Linked DNA regions of Homo sapiens: region 1 is linked to region 2. The links come from fine-mapping of genetic effects on gene expression. A gene starts in region 2. The other region holds a variant in brackets. All regions are shown on one strand. Distances are from middle to middle.

Region 1 (2,909 bases), 56 kb before region 2:
TGTTGATTTGCAACAGCATGAACAAATCTCAAATGCATTATGCCATGTGAAAGAAGCCAGACCAAAGAGAAGAGCACATGGTGTATGATTCCACTCATATAAAATTCTAGAAAGGCGGCCAGGCACAGTGGCTCATGCCTGTAATCCCAGCACTTTGGGAGGCCAAGGCGAGCGGATCACCTAAGGTTGGGAGTTTGAGACCAGCCTGGCCAACATGGTGAAACCCCATCTCTACTAAAAATACAAAAATTAGCCGGGCATGGTGGTGGACACCTGTAATCCCAGCTACTCGAGAGGCTGAGGCAGGAGAATCGCTTGAACCTGGGAGGCAGACATTGCAGTGAGCCGAGATCATGCCATTGCACTCCAGCCTGGGAGACAGAGTGAGACTCCGTGTCCAAAAAAAAAATTTCCTTTTTCAAACTATACCCCTCTCCACCCTGTCCCCATAAACATTGTTCTGAACAGTGAGCACACTGACCACCTAGGAGGTCCCTCATTCATTCTTGAGCCCCCAAGACTTAGCACAGTAAGCAAGCTCTGACTGTCAGTACCCGCCTTCCACATAGGCCATTTCCTGCCCTAAGATCTGTTCTGTTCTCTCCTGGGAATGACCTTTTCCTGCTTCTGTTTCTTCTTCATTCCAGATGCAGCTCAGGAATCTTCTCCATCAGCCTTCCCTGAATCTCTGCTCAAGCCTGTGCTCCACAGCTCCTGAGCATGTTTCTAGCTGCCACTCACCACTTTGTACTGATTTTATCTGTTGAAGCTTCTAGCCTTCCTCATGAGATAGTAAACAGAAAGGGGTTCTTAACCTTTTTTTGTGCCTCCTAAAGCCTTCTCAAAATATGGTAAAATAGACATAGGCATATGCAGAAAACTAATTATGAAATACAGTTATCAAACTATTCAAACATTTATTGGCTGTCATACCATATGTGCCTTGTTATTGATCTAGTGGTAAATCAAATGACTACCATTATTTCAAAGTAGTGATATGTATAAATGGGAATAGCTGTCACTCCTGTGGCTTGTCATTACCATTGATAACTGAAGGAAATACTGTATTGCAGTTAGAGGGTGATAAAACTGTAATCTTTTCCTATAAAAGTTCACAGGGCCCCTGAATTCCACCCAAGGACAAGGAGCCACAGGGCCCTAGAAAGGTTTTTAGAGGGGCTGTGTCCTCTTTATCTTTGGGTTCTCAATGCCCTCAGCACACAGCAGGGAACTTAATATCTCAGCTA[T/C]AAAACAAGGTAAGAACAATAACAATATTAAGTATAAATTCAAAAAACTAAGATAGTTTTTCCTGCTAATACTTGTTACTATTACTACTAGTATGCTTACACCAAAGTGTGTCCTGGAAAATGGTTTACCGACTGCCAAAGACCTTGAAAATACATTTACCTGGAACCATAGCATTCCCTGGCCACCTCATAACATTCTTCAGTTCTTCAAAGTATTAGCATAAAACCATGGAAAGAAATATATAAAGATCAGGGGGATTTAGAGGAGGAAGTCAATTCCCTTAATGTGACCTCACCATGTACAATGTGACCTTCAAATGGAGCATGTAGCTCTCTAAATCCTTGAGAAATGGATGAAATTCCCTTTGCTCAGTCTTTTTCTTCTCATTGCAGTGGTGAATAACGCAAGATGTCTCATGCTAACCACGGCCCTCTCTTGATATTACTAAATACTTCCTTTCTTCTCTATTTGTTGTTGCAGTTATTGTTGAGAGCATTTCATAACAGTGTGAAAACAATGAAATGAGTTCAAGTAAACTGAAGTAACAATGAAGCACCTACAGAGAAAAAAAAGTCCTGTTCACAGTGAGCTTTCACATGACCTTCTTTTTTATTTTAATTGAGACAGGGTCTCTGTCGCCCAGGCTGGAGTGCAGTGGTGCAACCATGGCTCACACAGCCTCAACCTCCTGAGCTCAGGTGATTCTCCCAACTCAGCCTCCAGAGCAGCTGGGACTACAGGTGCGTGCCAACACACCCAGCTTTTCTGTATTTTTTGTAGAGATGGAGTTTCGCCATGTTGCACAGGCTGGTCTCAAACTCCTGCGCTCGAGTGATCCGCCCGCATTGGCCTCCCAAAATGTTGGGATTACATGCATGAGCCATCACGCCTGGCCAACCTTCTTTAGTCTTAACAGTACACATTGAACCACCCACTCCTGGGTCCGGGTGGTGTGTGCGAGCCCAGGTCTGTCTCCATTCTGCTGGCAGTATGGAAAAGGCTACTCCTCTGCCTACTACATCACACCCATTTCCTTGGTATTTGAGGTGAATTGGTTCCTTCCAGCATAATTCTAAAGAACTAAGGTGAGAAAAAAAAATACCGTAAAATCTTTTTTACTCCTACCCAAGAAATTCGGGAGCCACTCTTTTTTTTTTTTTTTTTTTTTTTTTTTTGAGACGGAGTCTCACTCTGTAGCCCAGGCTGGAATGCACTGGCGCGATCTCGGCTCACTACAAGCTCCGCCTCCCGGGTTCACTCCATTCTCCTGCCTCAGCCTCCCGAGTAGCTGGGACAACAGGCGCCCGCCACCATACCCGGCTAATTTTTTGTATTTTTAGTAGAGACGGGGTTTCACCATGTTAGCCAGGATGGTTTCGATCTTCTGACCTTGTGATCCGCCCGCCTCGGCCTCCCAAAGTGCTGGGATTACAGGCGTGAGCCACCGCGCCTGGCCCTGGGAGCCACTCTTACCCTAAATCAGTCACTTAACCCAAATTCAAAAGAATGTTGAGCTAGCCTGTTGGTCCATCCACACCCCCATCCCTGTTGTAGCACTAAACATTGGCAACATTGGAAATGAGCTCTGTAGAAACAAGCGGTTTTGGAAACTGAGTATCAAGATAGTGGCTCACTGCCTAGATAAGAGTTTGTAAAATTCC
Region 2 (2,909 bases):
TATTTTCAATAGCTATGCTTTTTGACTTTGTTTTTCTCCTTGAAGAACTTGTATTTCCCTGAGACAACACAGCCAGATTACCCATATTGGTATGGTTTGATGACCCAGGTTCTGCACTAGTGGCTCCTTTAACTATGACTTCACCACATGTGCGCCTGTGCTTCAACAATCTATCAGTCCTTGAAAAATACTGTTGGCAAGTGTCACACTTATATGGCTTTTCTCCACTATGTGTCCTCTTGTGTCTCTCCATATGGTACTTCTGAATAAACTTCATGCTGCACTGATCACATCCAAATGGCTTCTCTCTACTATGAATTTTCTCATGTCTCTGTAGTAGGTATTTCTGAATGAAACCCATACTACACTGGCTGCACTGGAAAGGTCTTTCTCCTGTATGAATGAGGACATGTCTCCGCAGGTGATAGGAGCTTCGGAAAGCAGCACTACAGTGATCACAGATATGAGGTTTCTGACTTGGGGAGAGGATGGCACCTTCTCCATCTCCAACCAAAGAAGGTTTGGAAGATGCACTTGGCTTCCTCTTGGCTTTGATTCCCTGAGATTCTGGCTTTGGCCTTTTTGCCTTTTTGACATTAGTGTCCTGCTTTGGCTCCTCAGTGCCATGGTGGTCATCAGTCCTGCTACTGCTGCTGAGTAATACGTCACGGTGGTGCTGGGCTGGTTGCTGCTGGACATGCTGGTGGAGAATACTGAGGTCCTGGATGACGCCGTGACTCCCCCCTTCACCGCCTCCTAGGCCTGGAGACCTCTCTTCAGCTCCAGCGAACAGCCCCCCATAGTGGTGGTGGTGATGGTGGTGGTGGGACTGCTGCTCCTCAGGATCCGCGGGTTTCTCCTGTTTGATGCTAACCAAAGACTGCAAGAACCCCCAGGAGGTCCTCTGCGAGGGGAAGGCCGCGGCTGACGCCGCCGGCTCCTTCTTGAAAGTCATGTCCGGGGCTGGCGGAGGGGGGGGCTCAGCGGCCGGGGCTGCGGAGGTAGAGGAGGATAACACGCATTGCGGGGGAGGGGCGGCCGACCCCGCCGGCCGGGTGAAGCTGGTGACCGGGGGAAGACGGTGGTTGAACATAACCATACCCTGGGGAAAGGTGGGTTCCATCTCTGCCCTCCTGCCGCTGCTGCCGCCGCCGCCGCCGCCGCCACTACCACCGCCGCCGGAGCCGCTACCACCGCTACTGCCGGTACCTCCGCCGCCACTCAGGAACCCACTGCCGATTTTCATACCCCGGAGGAGGCCTGGCTGAAGAAAGGAGGAGGAAGAGGGAAGAGGGAGGAAAGGAGGTGGAACCGGGCCCCGGGCCGGGACCACCGCAGCGCTAAGGACCCCGCCGCGCCGCCGCCCAGACCGCAACGCGCCCAGCACTAATTCCCAGCCCAGTCGCCTCCGGCACCGGCACGCATGGTCCTGCGACTCTTCCCCAGGCCTCGCCCTCTCCCTCCTGGACCCACCGGCAATACTTACGGGTCCCGCCGCCGCCGCAGCCGCCGTCGCCTCCAGTTAATAAAAATAACGCCGTCCTCTCCACAATGGAATTAAAAGCCTCCCGTGTACTGCGCAGCCGCGGCGCAGTGTCTGCTGGGAACTCCTCGACCCGGCCAGAGGGGAGGGCTAAGGAGCCAGGGCGCCTGCGCCGCAGCTTCCGCCCGGCCTGCCTGTCAATCACTGGGGCCGTTGGGCGGAGGCGGGGGAGCAAGGGCAGGGGAGGCGGGGATTTGGAGCCCTGCTAAAAAGGGGCTTTCGAGGCGAACAGGCGTGATTGGTGGGCTGCACTGAAGGAGATGAAAGTGGTTGAGGGTTTCTGGGGGAAAGACGCTCAGGAGGTGGAACCCAAGGGGCGGGAAGTTACGGGGGACTGTACTACAGCGTGGCGTGGGAGATGCAGAGAAAGGGGCTGGAAGAGAAGGTGAGGGAAACTGAGGATTCAATGTTAGGGCTTTCTTCACTCTAGGTTTTGCAATCCAGGTCTTGAAATAAAATTCAAACCTAGAAGTGGATCATTGAGGGCACTTTTGATTCTATCAAGAAGCATTCAACTCCAAATGCTCAACATTTATTAAAACAGGTGCTTATGTTATCCCTTTGAATTTGGAAGCACTAATAATGGGCGCATATCCTTTGCATTTATGGGAGGAGCCTGCTTTGAAACCGCAATTAGTGGTACCGTTGCAACAAAAAAAAAAAAAAGAAAAAGAAAAAAACTTGTCTTACTGCCAACCTTCCTGAAGGCTACTGGAAGAGGAAACCGAGCGTAATCCAGGTGCAGCAGTCCTGTAAAACACGCCCACACACATACTTCATTATCATTACATCTTATTTAAATGCCCCCGTACCTTAGCCTGGCTAATCAGTCTGTTTGCCACGTTATGAATGCCTGGCCCTTTATATTGTTTATGAAAAATTAACCACCAGGCCATTCTAAGAGCTCTGCTAGGATCAACTCTTTCCTCGCCAGTACAGAATACCGAGAAACTCATTGCAAATTTAGAAATTTTTCTTGTAAGGGAAAATTATGAAGTAAAATCTTAAAATCAAAGTTATATCAACAAAATCAAACAACAAATATTTATTCAGTGTCTAATGTACACAAGGCACTCGATTTCATGTTAAGCATGCAGAAATCTAAACCAGACACTTTCCTAGCAAAGGATATTTATAAATGAGAAATTTTAAATAAAAGAACTAGAACTATGACAACAGCTTATTTACATAGTATGTTTTCTTAATGAAGTTACATGTACATCACAATGTTTCTAGCTAAATAACTTCTCATAATTAAATAATAAATTCTCTGGGAAATTTCACAATCGAAACCATAGGGATTATTTACTAATACTTATGGACCTCTCTCAGCCTGCCCTAAAAATTTTACAGACAATATTTAATG

Evidence for each region. PIP is the estimated chance that this variant, and not a neighbour inherited with it, causes the effect. A credible set is the group of variants that fine-mapping cannot tell apart.
Region 1: its variant is the best candidate, but not a certain one, in a credible set for the expression of ZNF281 in whole blood (INTERVAL, PIP 0.82).

Annotation. Positions count from the first base shown.
Region 1 is chr1:200,352,769-200,355,677 of GRCh38, forward strand. All of the region lies in intron 4 of LINC00862 (long intergenic non-protein coding RNA 862), which reads right to left. Among named protein-coding and RNA genes, the nearest start is that of LINC00862, 20 kb to the right of the region's middle. RefSeq lists enhancers at 1-306, 307-807, 2,617-2,909. The variant T/C (reference allele first, on the strand shown) is at 1,248.
Region 2 is chr1:200,408,460-200,411,368 of GRCh38, forward strand. It overlaps ZNF281 (zinc finger protein 281), which reads right to left and starts at 1,577. Exons shown (of 2, transcript NM_001281293.2): 1 at 1,487-1,577; 2 at 1-1,264. The coding sequence starts at 1,246. RefSeq lists enhancers at 826-1,403, 1,404-1,981, 1,982-2,559, 2,106-2,155, 2,831-2,909 and a silencer at 1,586-1,765.